Linked DNA regions of Homo sapiens: region 1 is linked to region 2. The links come from fine-mapping of genetic effects on gene expression. A gene starts in region 2. The other region holds a variant in brackets. All regions are shown on one strand. Distances are from middle to middle. Region 1 holds the start of LOC105379048 (a long non-coding RNA gene). Region 2 holds the start of CMYA5 (cardiomyopathy associated 5).

Evidence for each region.
Region 1: its variant is fine-mapped to the expression of CMYA5 in thyroid (GTEx, PIP 0.98).

The regions. Positions count from the first base shown.
Region 1 is chr5:79,852,541-79,864,086 of GRCh38, forward strand. LOC105379048 (a long non-coding RNA gene) reads left to right here and starts at 7,321. Exons shown (of 3, transcript XR_948500.3): 1 at 7,321-7,400. The variant A/G (reference allele first, on the strand shown) is at 7,216.
Region 2 is chr5:79,684,311-79,695,856 of GRCh38, forward strand. It overlaps CMYA5 (cardiomyopathy associated 5), which reads left to right and starts at 5,526. Exons shown (of 13, transcript NM_153610.5): 1 at 5,526-5,746. The coding sequence starts at 5,598. TENT2 (terminal nucleotidyltransferase 2) reads left to right here. Exons shown (of 15, transcript NM_001114394.3): 15 at 889-3,936. The coding sequence ends at 963. RefSeq lists an enhancer at 5,036-5,537.

The DNA of each region.
Region 1 (11,546 bases), 170 kb after region 2:
AGAAGCAAAACTTACCATCACATTTACTCAAAATGGTCATGATCTAATGGGGGAGACAGGAGGTGGCATCAGGAGCTCCGGCCCAGGGTAGAATGTGAGATGCTCCCAAAGGGAAGGGAGCTTTGCAAAGGGGACAAGATGTTTTAGAAAGAGGAGAAGCAGCATTCACAGATGAGTCCGGAACAGATTCTCAGAATCTGAAAGGCCATCTAAGGCCAACTTATCCAGGGTCCCTTATGGGATCCTAAACTGTCAGTGGTTTTATGACCTTTCTTCAGTATCTGTAGTCATTCAATTGCCAGACAGGTCAGCATCCCAAAGACAAATGATAGACAAAGTCTGTATCTGTCGATATCCATCAGGACTTCTTTGGTTATAAGAGACAGGAAATTGACAACCTGGTTGAAGCAAAAAAGGTAAAGGTAATTGAGTGCCTCATAGCACTGAAATGTTCAGAAAATAGTCCTGGCTTCAGTCGAGACTGAATGTAGGGGCTCAAATGACATCTACTCTGAATCTCTCAGCTTTGCTTCCCTCAGGTGTTGCTTCCTTGTTAGGCAGGCTTTCCCCTTGTGAAGGCAAGACAGCCACCACCTGCCCAAAGCTCCTGTCTGCTCAGCAACCCAGGCGGAAGAGGGCAGCTCTTTCCTGCTAGCCTTGGGCAACTCTCAGGCCAGCTGGAGTCAGGGCTGATGCCTAGACTAATCACTGTGGCCAGGGATGGAGGACACGAATGGACCAGGCCTGCTACAGAAACACCCCTGGGGCCAGACAGCGGACACAGCTCCACCCAAATCATTGAGAGTAGGGATGGGGCTGCTCCCCAAAACAAAACCTGGGGACTGAGACCAGAAGGGGCAATGGGCTCTGGCCAGTCAAAAACAACCCAAGTCCCCTTCAGTACAAAACACATACATCTATAAATCAGAAGAACAATTCATAGGAAAAATAAAGTAAAAAGGTAAAAATTCCCCCCCAAATCCCACAGCGTATATATAATGAACATATTTGCATTCAAAACCTTTTTCCTGTTCCTAAGCTAAAATGCCCCTCTACAGTTCTTATCCAATGACCCTAACTCCACCTTCCTTAGCTACATAGCAAAGGTTAACTCCTTTTAGAAAGCAGAAGACACCCTCCAAATGTTTGAAGACAGCTCTCATGTCCCTGCCAAGTCTTCCTTTCAGCCCAGTATTCTACCTGTGCCTCAGTTGTTCTGGTTTCCTGACCCACTGGGTCATGGCCGTGATCCTGCCTGAGGCTGGCTGCAGTTGGTCCATTCCTTCTTGACATGAGCTGCCTGGATCAGACCTCAATCCTTGATAGTGTGGATGGGCAAAAGGGGGCTGCCATTTCCCTTGCTCCGCATACCACCTTTTGTTCACAAAGCCTCTGATGACATTCACTCTCTTGGCAGCTCTGGCCCTCTGCTGGTTCATGCAGAGCCCAGAGTCCACCCAAACTCCCAAAAGCCTAAGTCCTCCCCAGAACACCTAGCCTCCCCCATTCCACACCACTGAATTCACAATTTGAACCTCAATGCAGGATATTGCAGGATATCACATGCATGTTGACTAAGCTTTCTGGTTGTTCCATTTTGGTTTGCTTTAGTTCCAGCCCGAGAGATGGTGTAGAGCCCCCTACTGCCACGCATGTGTCAGCTCTCTGACTCAATGGGAGTCAGAAGCACGTTGACCCAGGTGTGAGTCATAGGTGGGAGGGTGACAGGACCGAGCCAAGGCTACAGCACACACGTAGAGTGCTCACCTTGTTCAGCACACACTTAGAGTGTTCACCTTGGGTTGGCACCAGTGTGAGCATCTGTGGATGACCAGCTCTGATGCTCGCAAACTGTGCTGCCATCTATGCTGTACTTCCCTATCTGGTCACTAGAGGAAAGGAGATGACCTTTAGCCTGGGGTGAAAGTGGCTGGAATTTCAATAGAGATGGGGAGTGGGACTGGGGGCGATTTCTAGGTGTCAGAGCTCCACATATAAAACATGAGAGAGGGAAAGGCAGCCACCCTTGAGAGAGAAGCCCCTGAAGAGAGGGAACAGGTAGGGAATAAGCAGACGGCGAGAACCCTGAGGGCCTGCGTGTCAGTGAGGAGCCCGCCATTCAAGACGTTTGGAGCAGAGGCCTGATGGACTCGGAACTGCCCTATAGGAATACCCCGGGCTGCTGGGCAGGGAGGAGTGAGGCCACAGTAGCAGACTAGAATCTACATAAAGGAAGTTAAAGTCCCTAATCAGGACATAATGGTGGTGAGGATAGGGTGGGGGAACAGAGAAAAGGCATTCCAGAAATCAACTCAAAAGGACTTCGCAACTGTGTGTGTTTTGGGGCTGAACTGGGAGGTATAGAGAAAGAGTGATTAAAGATAACCCTAGGGTTTTAAACCAGAGGAAACTGGAAAGTGTTAATACCTGGATCAAAATTAGAATAATCAGAAAGAGCAATGGATTTGGAAAAAGAGAAATTGTGAAGGAAGAATTAGACTTTAGGTAAGTCGGTAGTATTGGTGGGATTCTGATGATGAGTGGCAGGTGGTTAGAAAAATGAGGGCAGGCATTTGTGGAGAAGTTGGAATTGGAGGTGACAATTTGGTTTGTTATATAGAAATAAGAATTGAAGCTTCAGAATTGGTGTGTTCAATATGGAAGAATGTGAATGCTGGTGAGGGCTGTGGACAGGTAAGTTGCGAGTGATAAAGTATTCTGCAATGGAAATTTCTATCATTAGCATCAGGATCCCATGCATGAGATAGGAGGAGAATAAAAAACCAATGAAGGAGAAAGAGAATGTAGGTGGAAATCTGAGATACTGCAGATCATCATAACCATAATTTGTCAAGACTTTTTTTTGCAAGTGATAAGAAACAATTCAAATTGGTTTAATAAAAAAAGAGATATATTGCCTCATATAACTGGTAAGTCCAGGGTAGTCCACATTCAGACGCATTCAGTGGCTCAAAGACATTGAGACTTATTTTTACTCCTACGCTGTATTCTACTTTCCTCTGTTGGCTCAGGACTCTTCTCTTTATGGTGACAAAATAGCAGTCAGGAACTCCATTCTATCTTCTGCCGCAGGAGGAACAAACAGTTCCAATGGTTGCCATTACATGCTCACCTCTGAGCCAATCTCTGGGGCCAAGAGGTGGCTATGCTCGGATGTGAAGCCACACTCAGCTCTGACTTGCTGGTCTTGGAGAGAGCAGCACCTCAACCTGGACACTGAAAATGGGATGCTGAGGGTGGGAGAGGGTTGGTTCCCTAGAGGAACACTGGGGTGCTGCTCCCAGAAGAAGGTAGAATTGACACAACCAAGACAGTGACTATCCACTACAGAAACCAAGGGAAGAACTTCAGGGAGGGTTGTAGTCAACAGTGACAAATGATGCGGAGAGGATGACGAAGAGAAGTGAATGGGCACAGACTTCAGACATGGTGGCTGAGTCATTTGTTTCTTTCAAAGATTGTAAATATGTGAGGAAAACAGATTTTAGTGGGTGAAGGGATGGGTGGGAGTAGAAACACTACAAAGGCAGGCAGGCATCTGCTATTTCAAAGAAGTCCATCCGTGAAAGGAAGCAGACAGACTAGCTTTCCCCCAATTCTGTCCCACAATTACTGAGCGAGACGCCGTGCTAGGAATTGGAGCCCCAAGATTAATAATTCCCAGTCTACATTCTCAAGAAGCTCAACGCTTGGAAAGGAAGAGATAATTGTAAATGAATAAATTATGGGGAGAAGGAATACGTCATGATTCCAAGGTTTCAGAGCGGGAAGTTACAACAATGAGAAGCTGATATTAAGCCAGAGCTATCACAGAAGACAGAATGATGAAATCAGTCTGAGTGTACAAGGAAAGGCTTTTCAGGGGAGGTGGTACCTGAGCTGGGTTTTGTAGAATGAATGGGAGCTCATTTTAGGAAGCAAGATGGGGAAAGCAGTGCCAGGCAAAAGCAAACATTCCTTAAGAGGTTCACAGACGCGTACTGCTACAGGGAAAACTCCAGAGGATGGGAAGAGTAGGCAGGGAGGCCTGTGTGATATGCTGAGGGGTGTGGGGCAGGGGCAGTGAAGGGTTTTTAGGTCAGTGCAAGGCAATGTCAGATTAGCGTGCTAGAAGAACCTCTCTGGACTCAGTCTGGAGGGAAGCCTGGGGGAGACCGAGGGGCCAGTTCAGAGGATGTGTTGATAGTCATGTAAAGGAGTGACCAAGTCCAGCACAAAGAAGGCGGGGACAGGGAAGAGGGGAAAGAGTGAGAGGAGCACCAGGAGAGGGGAGAGCCCGTAAGACAGTGAGAGGGAGGCAAGCTTTGAAGACAGGTGATGGGGCTGAGGGCAGGAGGAAATGCATCCCTGGAGAGGGTGACGCCAGAGGTGCAGGTGGGAAACGGGTAATGGGAGGAGGCAGAGAAGGTGGGCTCAGGCATGGGTGGAGGCGGAGAGAGGCCAAGCAGTCAGAGAGGAGGAAAGATGGAGAATATGGATAAGAACCCAGGGCAAGAGTGAGAGAGGCAGGAGAACAGTTGAAGAGCTTTCCTTCTCTCCATGAAGAAAGCAGTGAGGGCCAGGCATGGTGGCTCATCCCTGTAATCCCAGCACTTTGGGAGGCCGAGGTGGGCGGATCACCTGAGGTCAGAGGTTCAAGACCAGCCTGGCCAACTTGGTGAAACCCCCGTCTCTACTAAAAATACAAAATGTAGTTGGGCGTGGTGGCAGGGGCCTGTAATCCCTACTACTTAAGAGGCTGAGGCAGGAGAATCGCTTGAACCCAGGAGACGGAGGCCGCAGTGAGCCAAGATTGTGCCACTGCTCTCCAGCCTGGGTGAAGAGTGAGACTCCGTCTCAAAAAAAAAAAAAAAAAAAAAAAGAAAAGAAAAAAGAAAAAGAAAGCAGTGAGATCACCTGTCACTATATGTGGGCTGCAAATTTCCCTTTGGGGAAAATGGGGATAGTAACAGAAGCAATGGATCACTGAATCACATCAACTCCACCCCAGCTGTCCCCTCCTCTCCATTCTTCTGCCATTTGCCTCTCCCAGGTCTTCATTAACTATACCAGTGGTTCTCAGGGTGGGTGTGGGGTGCTTGAACCAACCTTGATCATCCTGGGAGCTCCTTAAAACTCTCACCCACCCTAGCATCTGATTCAGGAGGTCTAGAGTGAGCCATGGGCATGTGTGTTTCCAGAAAATCTCATATAGGAGAGATTCTGAAATGTATCACACAACTTAGAATTACTAAGGTTCATAGGACTGAGTCCCGGAATTTGCCATGTTGTGGGAGAAGACGGGGTGGAATCATTTGCAGAAGCTAGGTGGGTGTAAGTGACTCAGGAAAGGAGGACAAGGAGGAGGTGGCTGTGCCAGCAGATACGGGAAGGAGCGGGGGCTCCTATTCTCACATTCAGCAGATACGCCTCTCCCAAGCATCACTAGGCCAATCCCCACCCTTCCCAGGCTGCCCTTTTTATAACTTTATTTCCCCTTCAGTATTTCCCTTGATGTTCACTTTAGCCTGTGGGCCACCAGCATCAACATGCAGGGTCACAAAATGTGATTTGCCAGTGAGCACACAACAGACTAAGAACTATCAAAGCTGAGCTGAGGATAATCATGATTTTCTGAAATATCATGGCCATTCTTCTGAAGGCAAGGAATAAAACTGGGGAGAAAACCCACCCCCACACACACGGAAACTTGACAATGAAAAGGCACTGGGTACCTTCAAAAGTTGCACGAGTTTGTGTGCAGCACTGCCCTCTGCTGGTCAGAATCAGACCTGCAGCTGTAAGGCAACAGCATCTGACTTCTGGATTTTACGGTAAAGAGGACAGGTTAGTTGGGCTTCCGAGTCATTGTAGGTCAAGTCACACACTATCATTAAGTCCACATGTGTGACTCTTCAGGTACAAACTGAGCCTGAAACTTTAGGCTTGGAGGTTTCCAGTTAACTATATTCAAATAAAGACGCAACTGCCTAGGAAAAACACGAAGTCCCTGAATAATTTCTTTGTAAAATATTTGGGTGTGCATGTAATGGATACAGTCACCTGGAGACAAGTTGCAGAGGTAGAAATCTTTCCTGGAGTCAATGAATGAATTTTTTAAAAGTCTGATAATTCTATGCTGTTAATAATCATGGCCAACATTTACTGAACATATATGGTTATTGGCATCTTCTGTGCATTACATCAACTAACTTTCCTAACAACCCAATAAGACAAGAACAATTATCATCTGTACTTATAGATGAGGTAACAGGTATAAAAGAGTCCAAGGCCACAAAATCTTGGCAGAGAAAGAGATTACACCCAGAACTTACTATACAGCCTCCTTGTTAAGGTCATACCAACTGCTTTATTACATAGACACCAAAATACGTAATTGCTCTAACATCATAGATGTTTTATTTTGTGCTTCTATAATGGTCCCAAGTAGGTGTTTCTTGTGACTGGGTGCCTCTCCTCCTCCAGGTGCTGCAATTCCGGGACTCAGATTCCTTCAGGCTTGTGGCTCCTCCACCATGATCTGGGTCTGGTTATTTTCATACACATCTAGCCACCCAGAAGAAGAGAAAAGAGCAAGGAGAAGGCACTCCTGCTTCTTAAAAAACAGCTGTGGCTCACAGGCCAATGGAAAGAACTATTCTTCTGGCCACACGTAGATGCAAAGGAGGCTGGGAAATGCTGTCTCTGGCTGGTCAGCCTCTTTCCAGCACCAGTGCCACATCATGAAAGGGGAGGCAGGGATTTTGGTGGTCAAGGGCCACCTCTGCCCTCTCTCTAGTAAATATGATGGATGGTTCACTGATTTAAGCCACACCTTTGGCCACTACCCCAGGTGAACACCACAGCGAGGTCCTGAGACTGGGTTCCTTTAGCAATAAATCCTTGGAAGGTGCCTTTCCTCTTGACAAAGCACTTTTACACCTTTACATTTAAATTATCCTATTTAATAATTTAATTATTCCATTTCATCCTCACAACTCCTGTGAGGTGGGTTAATTGCCTTTATTTCACAGCTAAGGAAAATGAGGCTAAGCCGTCGGGTGGTTGCCCAAATTCCTACAGCTGGGATTCAACCAGTTTATTCTCGTTGCCAGATCCTGGAAATAGTGGCAGCTGCTAAGCTTAAGTGGAGTTTGACCAAAAAGCTTTATGGTAGAGAGAGAGAAGTGGGCAGAGCTGTGAGCAGAAACAGGC[A/G]CTCACAAATTCGTGGCCTGAAACGACACTGCTCATTAAACCTTGTGACTTTTGGTCCAGTCTCTGCCAGAAATTCTAAAGTTGGAAAAAGTTGAGAGAGAAGGGAGGAGTGACAACTGCAGGCTGCTGGAGAAACAGCAAGGTTCTCAGAATTTTTCTTCTACCTTGATCAAATGTCACAGAAGGTATAGAACCATGACTTACATTTCACAATTTAATGATTTACATTGCAGATTTCATTTACCTTGGACGATCCTATCATGTTCTTTGTCGTTGTGGATTTTTCCTTCTGGAAACTTGTGAGGGGACTTCATTTCCCTCCCATACGCCCCCTCACCACTTTTAGTCTTATCAGAGTCTCTGATAACAGTCTAGTAATGAGGGACTATCGTTACTTTTATTCTCACCAAGCTTTCATTCTGGGCTAGTTTAAACATTTCAAGTTTTATTTTATATTTTTATTGTGCAATGTTTAAAATACACAATAAATTTAAAGTGTTAGCATTTTCCTAATATCTTTATGTTGATTTCTAAATTAATTCAGTTATGTTTACAGAATATACTTTCTTTGCTTTCAATTATTTTACGTTTGCTAAGGTTTATTTACAGCACAGAATGTGGTCTATCTTGTGTACTTGAAAAGAATGTGCATTTGTTAGGTGAAGTGTTCTGTATAAAAATCATTTGGGGCCAGGTGCAGTGGCTCATGCCTGTAATCCTGGCACTTTGGGAGGCCGAGGGGGGCGGATCACCTAAGGTCAGGATTCAAGACCAGCCTGGTGAAACCCCATCTCTACTAAAAATACAAAAGATTTGCCAGGCTTGATGGCAGGTGCCTGTAATCCCAGCTACTCAGGAGGCTGAGGCAGGAGAATCGCTTGAACCTGGGAGGCAGAGGTTGCAGTGAGCTGAGATCACGCCACTGCACTTCAGCTTGGGCAACAAGAGCGAAACTCCATCTCAAAAACAAAAAAATTACTTGGGTAAAGTTGGTTGATAGTGTTGTTCGTGTCTTCTATAACCTTGCTGATTTTATGTCTACTTTTTCTATTGATTACCAAGGGAAGAGTGTTAACATCTCCAACTATAATTATGGATTTGTCTGTTTCTCCTTTCAGTTCTTCTAGTTTTTGCTTCATATATTTTGAAATATTGTTGTTAGGTGAATATGCATTTAAGATTATGTCTTCTTGGCAAATTGAACCCTTTATTATTATGAAATGTCCCTCTTTATCTCTGAAATCTGCTTTGATAATAACATAGCCACTCCAGTATGGTACATTTTTCTCCATCTTTTTACTTTTAACCTATCTGAATAAATACAGAATATATTTAAAGATATATCTTGTATCCTGTTTTCACCTCTAATTTTTGTTCTTCTGTTTTCTATTTCATACCTTATTTTGGATTATTTGAACATTTAATATTATTTAATGTTTGTTTGAATAATTAGCATTCCATCTCAATTTAGCTACTGGCTTCCTGGCTATATCTTTGTTTGTTTTTAAAAATTTTATAGGTGCTCTAGGGGTTACCGTATACATACCTAAAGTTCCACATTCTACTTACAGGTAGTATTTTCCCACTTCAACTAAAGTATAGACTCTTCCAATCATATTGGTTCCTTTACATTTACATACATTGAAATCTCCACTATATAATTTAATGATTTTTGCTTTCAGTAGTCATACACAATTTAAGTAACTGAAGAGGAGGGAAATAGTATTTATTGACACAGATATTTACTATACTGCTGTTGCTTTTTCTTCATTTCCTAATTTCCAGGTTTTCCTCTGATATCGTCTATCTTCAGCCTGAAGAACATCCTTTAGCATTTTTTTTTTTTAGGGCATACCTGCCAGCAATCGATTCCTTTGGTTTTCCTCCATGATAACAGACCCCATGGGGATTATTAATTTCTAATTTAATTAGGTTACAGAGTATATTAAGTATAATTTCAATCCTATTAAATGTATTCAGACTTGTTTTATGGCCAATGCAATTGTCTATCCTTGTGAATATTTATGTCCATTTGAAAAGAAGGCATTATTCTGCTGGTTTGGGGTGTCATGTTCTACAAATATTATTTAGACCAACTGTGGTTCATATCTTCTATATCGCTACTGATTTCTTTTTGCATCAATTACTAAGACAGAAGTATTAACATTTTATATTTCTTCTTTCAGTTTTGTTTGTGCTTTACATGAAGTTTTTGAAGTTCTGTTTTTGGATGTACACTCATGTAGTCTTATGCCTTCTTGATGTATTATTATGTATTGCTATGAAATGTTTCTTTCATCTTTGACAATAATCGTTGTCTTGAAATCCATTTCATTTGACATAAATATAGCCATTTCCATTTTCCTATTATTTTTTATCTAGTATATCTTTTTCTATTCCAGCATTTAACTTTTCTGAATTTTTGTATTTAAAGTGGGAAAGTAGATTTTTTTGCAGATAACACTTGTTGGGTCTCACTGTTTTATCTAGTTTGACAATCTCTGCCTTTTAATTTGAGTGTTTGACCATTTGTATTTAATGCAACTATTAATATAGTTGGGTTCAAATATGCTATTTGTTTTCTATCTGTCTCAATTGATCTTTGTTCCTTCATCTTTTCCTACCCTCTTTTGGATTTATTGAGTATTTTTAATATTCTATCTGCTGTTGGCTTATTGGCCATAGCTCATTTTAAAAACTATTTTCATAGGGTCATTCTACAGTTTACAATATGAATCTTGAACTTATCACAACTTATTTTCAAATAATATTATACCACTTGACAGCAGCATATTTCTACTTCTCCCTTCCAGTCTTCTGTATTATCATCGTCATACAGTTTATTTCTGCATATGTTGTAAGGCCCATATACACTGTTATTAACAATTAAATGTCTTTTAAAATAAGTTTAAAAATTAGAAATAAGTATTTTATATTTAATCACATATTTATCATTTCTGTTTTTCCTTATTCCTTTTGCAGATCCAAATTTCTATCTGATATTATTTCTTTCAGCTTGAAAAATATCCTCTTTTATTTCTTTTAGTGCAGGTCTGCTGGCAATGAATGCACTCAGCTTTTGTTTGCCTAAAATGTTTTTAATTTTTGTCTTTATTTTTGAGGGATTTTTTTGGGATACAAATTCTCGACTAATAGTTTTTTTTCTTTCAGCACTTTAAAGATGTCATTTAATTTTCTTTTGGCTTTCATTGTTTCTAATGAGAAGTTAGTCAAATTTTCAGCTTTGTTCATATATATAGTGTGTGCATGTGTGTGTTTTCTGGCTGCCTTTGAGGTTTCATCTTTGTTACTGATTTCCAGCCATTTGATTATAATGCATTTTAGTGTGTTTGTCTTTATCTCACTTCAGTTTTGCTGAACTTCTTGAAACTGTGGGTGTATCTTTTCATCAAATTTGGAAAAATTTTGGTCATTATTTCTTCAAATGTTATTTCTTAATTCCCCCAGCCCACCCTTACCTTTCCTGAGACTCCATTTGCACATATTATCCCACAAGTCACTGAGGCTGTGTTTATTTTTTAAGGCTTATTTTTTTCTCTATGCTTTAGTCTGGATAGTTTCAATTGTTATGCCTAAAGTTCACTGTTCTTGTTTTCTGTAATGTCTAGTCCTCCTTAAGCCAACCAACAAATTTTTCATTTCAGACAACCCATTCCTTGGCCCAGTATCATTTTCCCTTAATGATTTTAAATTTTATTCTTATCAGATACTAAATTTTCATAGGTGTTTGTGTTTAATTTGCTTTTTATTCTGTTTCATTAATCTATTTGTGTATTTATGCTCTAGAACCGCATTAATTTTTATTATTATAGATTAATATATGTCAATATCTGGAAGGGTTAGTTCTCCCTTAATACTTCTGCTTTTCAGTCTATTCTTGTTTATTTTTTCAAATGAAGTTTAAAGTTGGTATGTAATTAAATGAAAATTCTGTTGATGTTTTAAAAATTGTACATATATATTACCTTAGGGGTAATTAGCATTTTTCTTATGTCAGAGCTAAATATGCAAAAACAGGGTTAGTCTTTACAATTTTTTCAAGTTTTTTGCATCCCTAAGTGGCATTTTAAAGTTTTCTTCATATAGATCTTAAATATTTCTTTGTTTATTACTAAATATTTTGTGTTTTTGTTGTTGCAGCTATTATAAATGAGGTCTCCTTGTTATTATATGTTCTCAGGGGTTATTGCTTTTATATAGGAAGACTATTGATTTCTCTAGTCTCAACCACTTAATGTGTTCCATCATTGTTTCCCAGTCATTGCTTACTATATTTTTCAGGTGTATATAATATACCAAAATGGTGCTTT
Region 2 (11,546 bases):
TCTTGCTCTGTTACCCAGACTCAGGCAGCCTCAATCTCCTGCGCTCAATGATCCTCCCACCTCAGCCTCCTGAGTGCTGGGACTATAGGCGTGTGCCACCATACCCAGCCAATTTTTGTATTTTTTGTACAGACAGGGTTTCACCATGTTGCCCAGGCTGGCCTTCAGCTCCTGAGCTCAAGTGATCTGCCCACCTCAGCCTCCCAGAATTCTGGAATTATAGGCATGAGACACTATACCCAGTCTCATAATTATTGTTTTTAATGCAAAAAGCTAGTAAAGATGTAAGACAGTCAATCAAATAATTGAAATAATCCTCTCTTCTCAAATCCAAAGGTTTTGTCTTAATTACCTTGCTACTTTTAGATTGAATTAATCCGTGAATAAATATTAATATTGTCAGTTGTATCTTTCAGTACCACCTATGTGCCCATTTCTTTATTAATGAATTGGAACCATAAAAATATGGAGTTTTTAAATAACATTTTCTTTTCTGATGACAGAAACAATACTTACACTGTGTTAAAAACTTGGAAAATAAAAACTTAGCCAGCCTGGGCAATACAATGAGACCTTGTCTCTACAAAAAAATTTAAAAATAGCTGAGCGTGATGGCATACGCCTGTAGTCCCAGCTACTCAGGAGGCAGAGGTGGGAGGATCTCTTGAGCCTGGAAAGCGGAGGTTGTAGTGAGCCGAGATTGCACCACTGCACTCCAGCTTGGGTGGCAGAGTGAGACCTTATCTCAAAAAAAGAAAAAATTTGAAGGAAAAAATTATTCAAAATTTATCACCTAGAGAGAACCAACTATTAACATTCTTTTAAACTCTCAGTCTTTTGTTCTGCATAAATTTTAGGTTTTAAGAATGATTTTTCTTTCTCTCCCAGTCATGGCACAGATTGAAAAACAAGAGAGATTTGAACAGTATACTACCTGTAAGAGCTGCTGTCCTGAAAAGATAACTGGCCTCTATTTCTTAATAAATTCTTCCAAGAAATAAAGAACAATAGTTTCATCATAATACATTATGTTTACCTCCATCATAGTTGCTTTTTTCATAGTTCTTGTTTTCATGTTTTATTTTTAAAAAGACATATAAAGATTGCATATTTTATTATGACATTTCCTAATAAACCCCTTTGATTTAAAAATGTATTTTTAAAAATGTTTACATTGATGATGAGTAATATTGCATGTGTTTTCAGGTGATCAGATAAAATATATTTTGGGAAATTAACTGAACAAATAAAAAGTTTTTGATATAACTTCAATTAATTGTACCACATGCTAATCCTGAAGAGATGTGTAGAATTTTGGAAAGGGTCTAATTCATACATGCTTAAAGTATAACCTACGTTAGATAGTTTGTTGTCAAAGTCTGTTCTAGTAAAGTGAAGATTCAAGTCAGTTGTTCAGTTACTTGAAGCAAAACGAAATCTTTCATTTCAGTCAAATCACTGCAGTCATGAAATACTGAACAATTGCCTTAAGTCTTTGCTTGACTCACTGGGATAGACTGAGGCTTTGGGTGTGTCTGTATTAGCATTTCATTAGTACTTCACATGCTTTTGATGTACTCTTGAGATTGCTTTAAATTTTGTATTGAAACAACAATACATTTTGCACTGTAGTAATGGGAGCACTAACTCTTACAACAGTTAGTGAATCGTTTTAAAGAATCAGTTCAGTGTAGACATTTTGAAAAGATTGTTTCCTGTGCTTTACGATAGCTTAGTGCAATGTGCACTTCTGTTTTACTTGCCATTTTCCTGCTCTGTTTTCTCTGTGACATGAAGCAACAGAAACTGAGATCAAAGTTAAGATTATATCCTGTTTGTAGTATCAGATATTTTTCTGTGTACAATTATAGGATTGTAATCTAAACTGGAATTTTTAGGCAGTAAGTCACCACAAAATGTTTTAGATAAGACACAATAAAATTATTATAAATAAAAGCTTAATGTTTGTAAAAAATCTCTTTTTTAGTATTTCTTTTTTCACATGAAAGAAGTGGTGGCTGCTAAAAAAAAAGCTACAGTGTTTATTAAGGGTCTTTTTGATTTATGTAAATATTTGTAAATTGGTCAGTGCCTGTAAATTTAAATATAAAAAGTAACCTTGAAAACAGTTTTAACTTTTTCAAAAGAACTATGTCCAACATTTTTTAGACCTGCTGTAGTACAGTTTTGTACCTCTAACGTATTTTTTTTTTGCAGACCAAATGCTAAAACTTTTGCTTTTCTTTGACTTGTAAAAGGTGCACATTTTCATTTTCTTCCTTAAGTTCAAATTTTTGTATGATGTCAAATGCAATAAAATTTATATATGGACATTGTTGAGGTGCCTTTTTTTTCTGTGAAAATCTTTGCTTTGAGATGAGACCGAGGCTGTAGTTATCATCTAGAACTGAACTAAATCTACTTATTAGCCAGCTAACGACATCAATATCTTATGTCTCTGGCATTATGAGGAATGAAAGTTTACACATAGTGAATTTTTTAGATTCCTGATGTGTAACACTTTTTATGCATTTGAGCTTTTCATATTTTGGGGGGGAATTTTTCCTAAAATTTACACTGTGCATCTCTTAATCAGAATGTACTGAGTAGAGTTAATATTCTAGTGATGACTGGGTAATCATTATAAGCATTAGTCATAGTACTATTCAGTAATACTGTGCAACTTTCAGGGATGGGTAAGTATGTACCCTCTGCCTCTACAGTATTATGACATTTCCTAATAAAACCCCAGAATTTACCATGGTGTGGGTTCCTTCACTGTCACTGTTTTCTCAGTTTTCAGTGGCCCCACACTTACTACTGCTTTTCTTTGTTTTACCACGAAAAACAGATCAAGAAGTCACTAAACTTAGACCCAATTCTATATCAGTAGACTGAGGCCTGAAATTATGCACACATAACTGGCCAAATATCAGATAAGTGAACTGTTAATATATGAGAGAATTTTCTGGACTTTTAAGTTATTAATCTCAATTATTTGTGTGGTGAGTACTAAATTATTTTCTGTTTGTGTTGATCTGTCCATTTCTGTATATAGTTGTCCCTCAGTATATTGAGGGATTGATTCCAGGTCAACCCCGTCCTCTTCAGATACCAAAATCCACAGATACTCAAGTCCCTTATATAAAATGGTGTAGTGTTTGCATATATCCTACACACATTCTCTTGATACTTTAAATCATCTCTAAATTACCTGATACGTAATACAATGTAAATGCTATGTAAATAGTTGTTATACTGTATTGTTTAGGGAATAATAATGACAAGACAAAAAGTCTATACCTGTTCGGTACAGATGCAACCATTCTGCCTCCTCCCTACCCCCTCCCAAATATTTTTCATCCTGGTTGAATTCACAAATCCTACATGGTTACGGAGGGTTGACTGTATTTGCATATGTTGTTAAAGTGGTGTTTAAAATGTGCAATCTGTACTACAATTCTAAATTTTGGATTGATTTGAACTAGGATCTTTGCAAATAAATCTCATAGACATTAATGTTTGTAAGAAATTTTTAATTAAATGATGGAAGGAACATAGAATGGCTACCTGTGATTTTGATTAGTGTTTAACAGATTGCCACAGCTGTGATTGAATTCCTTTTGTACTGGATGAGCATGGTCATTTGGGATTACTGATGGTGAAGTCTAGCTGGTGTTAAGAGAATAAATATTGCTGATGCTAAACCTGGTTTAGTGAGCTGTGGAAGCCTTGACTCTGCTGTTTTCCCTCCTTATGCCCCACTAGCTGATGTATCTGTACTGTAATTCAATGATTTACAGTTCATTACCTCCAGACATAATGCATGCATACCAGCTCGTGTAACTGGTGAATAATCCCCAGCTTACAGTCATATTTAACAACTCTGTGACTTGCTATAATTAAAAATAAATGTTAACTCTTCTAGCCATCAAATCATTCTCATGAAATGAATATCTTTATTGTAAAGTTACCTCCATTTGTACATAGCAGTTCTGGTTCTGTTCTCTTCAGGGAGCATCCATTATATGTACCTGCTATGTGCTAGCTACTTTGCTAGTGTGTAGGCTTGTAAGAGATGGGGATGATGGGACAAAGAAGAGTAGTAAACTTACGAAGTCTGCTGGGGAAGGAGATACAAACATAATTTGAATATAGGATTATGTGGGAACCTGGAAGAGAGGTACTGAGTTTAACTTTGGGATTTCAGTGAAAGGTGGTGATCTTGAATGATGGGTATCCTGGTAAAAATGGGACCAACCTTTGAGGCAGAAGGAATTGTGTTAATAAAGACACAGTGGAGTGACTTGACAATGTTGGGAACTCCTGACTTCTAAAGACACCTGACCAGCTGGGCGTGGGGGCTCACACCTGTAATTCCAGAACTTTGGGAGGCTGAGGTGGGCAGATCACCTGAGGTCAGGAGTTCGAGACTAGGCTAGCCAATATGGTGAAACCCCGTCTCTACTAAAAATACAAAAATTAGCTGGGCATGGTGGTGCGCGCCTGTAGTCCCAGCTACTCGGGAGGCTGAGGCAGGAGAATCGCGTGAACCCAGGAGGTGGAAGTTGCACTGGACCGAGATCGCGCCATTGCACTCCAGTCTGGGCGACAAGAGCAAGACTCCATCTCAAAAAAAAAAAAAGAGTAGACAGGTAAAACATGGCCTGTTAGGCAACCGTTACCTTTGTGAGGGTGTTGGGGTTCAGTCTTTGAGCAGTGGGAAGCCATTGAGGGGTTTTAACCACAACTTGATCCGGGGAAAGGTTTGGGGCATTTGGGCCAGTTTCAGACAAAACTTAGCTTTTTGCTAACGTGGGGGAAATTGCTCCTCCTCAAGGTTTAAGATGAGTGGAGATAAAGTTTCCTGGCTCAATAACAGGGACCACTGAGCAAGAAAATACACAGTATATTGACTTGCGATATAAAGAGAGCCGGGACGGAACACTGGTTCAAAACTGGGCTTTTGAGCAGGGCACGCCTAGCTTTGTTTCTCATTGGGTCATTTTACTAGCAATGACAGCCTGAGCTGCTGGAGCTCTTCGGAGTCTCAGTTTCCTCATCTGGGAAACCAGCACTACAGTAAAACCTTCTACAGGTACCACCACAGAATCGAGGTAATGAAAGCGAGACCCTTAGCAGAGTGCCTGGTAGTTAAGTGCCCAGCTCAGGGTATTGTTTGGGATAAAGGGTCCAGAAAGTAGCTCAGCTCAAAACCGAAAAGACTCACTCTGGAGGAAATAAGAGACGGGGCTAGGTTGCCTTTCCTCCTTTGAACCCCCTGGTGCAGCCGGAGCCCGCGCCCCTTAAAGTGATCTCCAGTTGTCCGAAAGGCCCGCCAGGGATCTGGCGAAACGGGGGCGGGGGAGGGCTCAGGGAAGAGGAGAAGCTGAGCCCGGGCCCCAGAAGCTCGGTGGCGAAACTTTGACGCCTTCTATTTAAAGTCGCGGGGCTCGCCCGCCCCCGGCGCCGGGAACCCGAGCCGCCCCCGCAGGGGCAGGGCTGGGGAGGGCAGGGGCCAGAGCAGTCGGAGGGAGAACACCAGGCGCGGCGCGGGCGGCTCCGGCTCCGGCCCCGGCCCAGGCCCGGGAGAGGCGATGGCGAGCCGCGATAGCAACCACGCTGGCGAGAGCTTTCTCGGCTCCGACGGGGACGAGGAGGCGACCCGGGAGCTGGAGACCGAGGAGGAGTCGGAGGGCGAGGAGGACGAGACGGCGGCGGAGTCGGAGGAGGAGCCGGACTCCAGGTAGCGCGAGCCTCTCTCCTCGGCCCAGGGCCTGCAGGGCAGCTAGCAGCACCCTTGCTTGTTTGCTTTAAGTTTTTAAGCTCTGGGGTTCGTTTGCCTCGAGCTAGGCACTTTCTCTCTGGGTGCACTGTCGTTTAAAAGAACTTGAAGGTGAAGGTGCTCGCTGTCAGCTGGAGTGACAGGCCCGCCTGCAGCAGAGTTCATTACCCCCGCCCCCAGCTCCTTGTGACTCGCTGCTCTTGTTTATTCCTGAGGATTTACTTAGGTCCTGCATAACTGCCGAAATGTGCTGGAACACGTACATCTGGCCCGAGGCACAGGAACAATCGCGAAATCCTGCGCTAGAGGAGAAGGGGGTGGGGTGGAGGCGGTGAAGGCGCACTGGTACCTTCCGATGAATGGCGGTCTCCCCGGGGGCCTAGCAGTAGGCTAGGCTGCAATAAGGTGACCTTATTTTGATACAAAGGCCCATAAATTCTTTGGGGGAAAAGAAGCATGAGTTTCAGTAATCCCTGTTCTTCAAGTCCTGGTCCCAAATCCCAAATATCAGTTTCCGTGAATGCGATGAAGTAATACTATGTACAAAAGATGCACCTCCCACCCTTCGATCTCCCACCCTCCGTCCCTTTAAGAAGGCCCTAAAATGAGAATAATAGAAATCATCTAATGTCTATTTGGATTAGCTTCTACCTTCACTTGTTTTCCTTGAGTATGAGTTTTGGGTTTTTTCCTGACTGTGTGTCAGTCAGTGATGTCTCTTCCTCAGTCTGTTCATAACAGTAGAAAGGCTTTGAAGGTGGCAGGTGGGTGTGTACCATCTCAGAACGCCCAGCTTACCTAATCAAAGCCAGCAGAGCCGATGTTGAAGAAGTAGCCCATAGAGGGGCATTGAGGAGGATGGATGGTCAGACAAGAAGTCCTGAATGTATGTCACCTGTTTATCAAACAGCTGCCAAGTGGGAAGCAAGCACAGTCCCTGGCCTCAAGGACCTTGTGGAAAAAGTTTCCCTAACTTTTTCCCCTATGGGGAAACGTTTCCCTAACATGGGGAGTGTGAGACTATATAGAGGTGGAAGGGAGGACTATGGGTACTGTGCAAGGGCAGAAGAGGGAGTGTTGGGCTGGAGCTGCCTTGAAGTAGTGGGCAGGGACTACAAACAGGAAGAGCAGAGGAGAAGGCACCTGTAGGAAGTGGATCAGGGAGTAGGGGACCTGTGATCCCTTGGCAGTGTTGAGAAGGGGAAGTCTGTCAACTCAGCTTTTATAACCTTTCCCTTACTGTTGTCTGGGATCCTCATATCCTTGCCCAACCACAATTTACAACCAAGAGAATCTGAAAACTCATTTACACTAAAATGTGAGCAGCTGACCATTCACTCTGGGGTTGCATTGCCATTTGACAAAGGTCAAGGCCTTCAGAAAAGGATGTGATTTGTCTGCAGTAAACTTCAGCCTGTTCTGACTACAGACAGTAAGGTGGACACCAGGGAAAGAGGTCAGAATAAATAGAGTGGAGGGACACATGAGGGAATATGGAAAATGGAGGCCTGGAAAAAGCATCCAATTTATTTTTTATTGGATGACAAGGGTAACAGGAAGTCAGCAAAACTTCTGGATTTAGGAAAAACACGTATCGACGAAAAAGCATCAAACTCTGTAAAATATCTGAAGAGATTGGTTCTGAGCCAAATATGAGTGACCAATGGCCTGTGACACGGCCTGCAGGAGATCCTGAGAACATGTGGCCAAGGTGGTTGGGGGACAGCTTAATTTTACACATTTTAGGGAGACATGAGACCTCAATCAAATACATGTAAGATGCACATTGGTTTGGTCCAGAAAGGTGGGAAAACTGAAGGGCATGGGGGCTTCTAGGTTATAGGTAGGTTTAAGTTTTTTCTGATTGGCAATTGGTTGAAAGAGTTAAGTTATTCTCTTAAGACTTGGAATCAGTGGAAAGGAATGTCTGCATTATGATAAGGGGATGTTGAGACCAAAGTTTTATCATGCAGATGAAGCCTCCAGGTAGCCAGCTGGAGAGAGAATAGATTGTAAGTGTTTCTTATTAGACTGAAAGAGTTGTTCTATCAGTAATTCCAAAAGGGAGGGGGGTGTAGTGTAGTGAGGCATGTTCCATCTCCCCACCTCCACCATCACGGCCTGAGTGAGTTTTTCAGGTTAGCTTTGGAATGCCCTTGCTGAAAGGAGGGGTCCACTCAGATGGTCGGGGGCTTAGAATTTTATTTTTGGTTTGCAAACCTTCATTTTTAAAAATTCAAAAGACACAAAGTAATCTGTAAACGTTCCTTTACCCTTTCAGGTATGATATATATAATTATCTATAGTTACCTTTCTGAATTGAGGAAAAATTCTCTTTAATTATAAAATGCTTTTGTAGTGCAGGAAAGCTCATCATTTACATACACCAACATGGATATTGGATCAGAGAACTATCCTTCTGATATATCATCCAGTGATATGAATGTGACATGTAACATCAAGAGGCCTGTGAATCCTATTAGTTGTTCCATAATGGGAAAATCCTGTCCTCTTTGAGCCCAATTTTCTCATCTGTAAAATAATAAGAATTCCTAATTCATAAGGTTGTCATAAGGATTGCATAAATTATGTGAATGTGTGTAGGAGTGCTTGGTTCTTAGTAGGTTCCCATTAAGCTTTAGTTTCTTTTATTCCATCAGATGAGTCATTATTAGCAGGAAGGCTCTACCTTCTGCCCACCATTCATCCATGAAGGGAGAGATGGTCTCAGCTTTCAGTATAAATAATGATCCTATTTCACTTTGTATTCATTCATTCACTAAACATTCATGGAGTGCCTACTATTAATATTTGCCATAGACAATGCGAGGTGCTGGGGATACAAAAATAAGAATCCATTACTGTCCTCATATTCACCTTCTAGTTGGAGAAACAGAAAAACGTAATTATGTCATTAGCTGTTAGAAGAGATTTAAGGAAGAAAAGGTGTGTATGAAGCACCTCAAAGTCTTGGGATACATGCTACCTGGAAGGGTTGGAGAAGCCTTCATCATTGGAGCAGTGTTTTGAATCATAATAAAATGCCTCATAGTGCTTGTAGTTTGTGGATATCAAAAAAGATTTTTATGTTTCTAAAACTTCATGGGAGAACTTTTGTGAAAGGCAGATTATAAAACTCACAGGATTTTAGAGCTAGCAGAGGCTTTGGAAGTATCTGTTCTCAACCGATCTGATTTTAGATTCAGAAACTGTCAGGAGTCGTTTGTTCAAAGTCACACAATTTTTTTTTTTTTTTTTTCTTGAGGTAGGATCTCACTCTGATTGCCCAGGCTGGATTGCAGTGGCGTGATCACGGCTCACTGCAGCCTTGACTAACCAGGCTCAGGTGATCCTCCCATCTCAGCCTCCTGAGTAGCTGGGACTACAGGTGTGCATCACCAGGCCTGGCTACTTTTTTGTATTTTTATAAGAGACAGGGTTTTGCCGTGTTGCCCAGGCTGGTCTTGAACTCCTTGGCCCAAGCAATCCATCTGCCTCCAGCCTCCCAAAATCCTGGGATTATAGGCATGAGCCACCGTGCCCGGTCAGCCACAGAATTTTTTGGAACAGAATTAGGAGTAGACCCCAGGTGTCTGGACTCCAATTTAATGTTCATTAATGTATTCATTTGGCAGATATTTATTGAACTCCTACAATGTGCCAGAGACTTCCTAGGCACAAGGAATACAGCTGTGAACAAAATGAATAAGGTCTCTGCCCTGCTAAAACTCACTCCAGTTTGGGGAGACAAATAAAACATATAGTATGTCAAGTGGTAAGAAATTATGAAGACAAATATAGCAGGATAAATGGGTGGGGTATATTTGGATGAGGTAGTGAAGAAAGCCTCTCTGATGAGGTGACATTTGAGCAGATACTGAAGGAATGAGTTTCTAGGCAAAGGGATGACCAGCTGCAAGGGCACTGAGGGAGGGATATGTGTCTTATTTGAGGAACGCAAGTTGGTCAGGATGCTGGAACAGAGTAAGGTAATGGGGCGAGTGGTCAGAGTCAAAGCTAAGAGATAGTTGGGTTGCAGATCATGTAGGGCTTTGTAGCCCATGGTAAGGACTATGAATTTTATTCTGAGTAAAATTGGAAGCTATGTTGTGTCTACTATACCAGTCAGGATAAAAACAAACAAACAAAAAACAAGGAAAGCACAGTGATTGCAATATTCCTTTAAATAATAAGCACCTATACATTTGTATTTTCATTTGACTAATATTTATTTAACACTTACCATGTGCCAAACTCATGGTTTCCTGTATGGAGAGGAGACAGAAGTAAATAGGACTGTTACTTTTGTATTTCTCTTGCTGTAGACCAGTGAAAGCCAACTCTTTCAGCCTTTCCCACAGATCACTTAGAAACTTTTCAGCATTTTTATTTTCGGTCATTCTCTGTTGGTCAATTTTCATTTCTCTATTTAAGCACAGAGGATTTTTGCCACAGCAGTACCCAAAACTTAAAAATCACCTTCAATTGCAGCTTTGCCAGTGCTTCTATAAAACAGGTCTGTCTAAGCTGACAGAATTAAAATTATTAGTGACATTCACATTTAACTAGTCCTTGCAGGAATAAACCTTTTGGAAGGTGCAAGGAATTTGTAAATGGTTTTCATTATCAGTACAGAGCACTCTGTTTCCATATATCTATTTATATGGTGTCTCCCACAGATGTGCTTACCTAGGTGTTTTGACAAGTGTGTTATTTGAGCCAGCCTTCTTCTGAGGTCAGTGGAAAGAGCTCAGAATGGGAGGGGTTGACTGCTCAGGATGCCAGAGGCTGAGGGAGGATAGAAGATAACAGAGTCACTTGTAGCCAGAAACTGAAGAGCTATTTAAGTGTTGGCTGCATGGATATTTTATGTCCTTGGTAAGACTTTGACTCAACGAAGAGTTAAACTCAGCAAGAGTTGGAATTATTACTATTTTTTCTTTAGAAAGGCAAACTTACTAAAAAGTGTAGGACATACTGATAAAATTTTACACACAAAAAAGTCCATAGTCCCTGGATATTCTGAAAACAGGCTTAATGAAAACCTAATTTTTTTTAGTCATTAAACCAAATTCCCCTTCCTACCAACATGACTTAAGAGAATCAAGTACAAGAGACCAGTTGTGGCTGTACATGAAAATAACCTTTGATTTAGCCCAGCATTATCCTATAGAAATATAAGGTGAGCCACATATTTAATTTTAAATTTTCTAATAGCCACATTTTAAAAAGCAGAAAGAAACAAGTGACATGAATTTTAGTAATCACTTAACCCAATATCCAAAGTATTACCATTTCAACATGTAATCAGTGTAAAACTTATTAGAGATATCTTACATTATTTTGTACTAAGTCTCTGATGTTTTTTAAATACTTACAGCACACCTCAATTCATCCTGCCTAACCACATTTCGAGTGCTTCATAGCCACATGTAGCTAGTGGCTATCATACTGAACAATGCAGGTCTGATAATACCTAGAAATCTGTTAGCTTCATTGGAATCTAGAGAACTGCTGCATTGGTAATAAATTCTATATGCCAGGCCCTGTGCTGGATACCAGGGACACAAAGAGGATTGGATGACACAGTTGTTTTCCCTCAAGGAGCTCAGTCTGGTGAGTGGAAGCGGTTAATTTCAATGTAATATCATAAGCATTACACTAAGGATATTAATAGAGGAATATCCAAAGACATTCTTCCTAAAATGAGATTTAGAAAGATTCCTGTAGAGTGACACTGCAGTTGGGCAGAAAGATATTC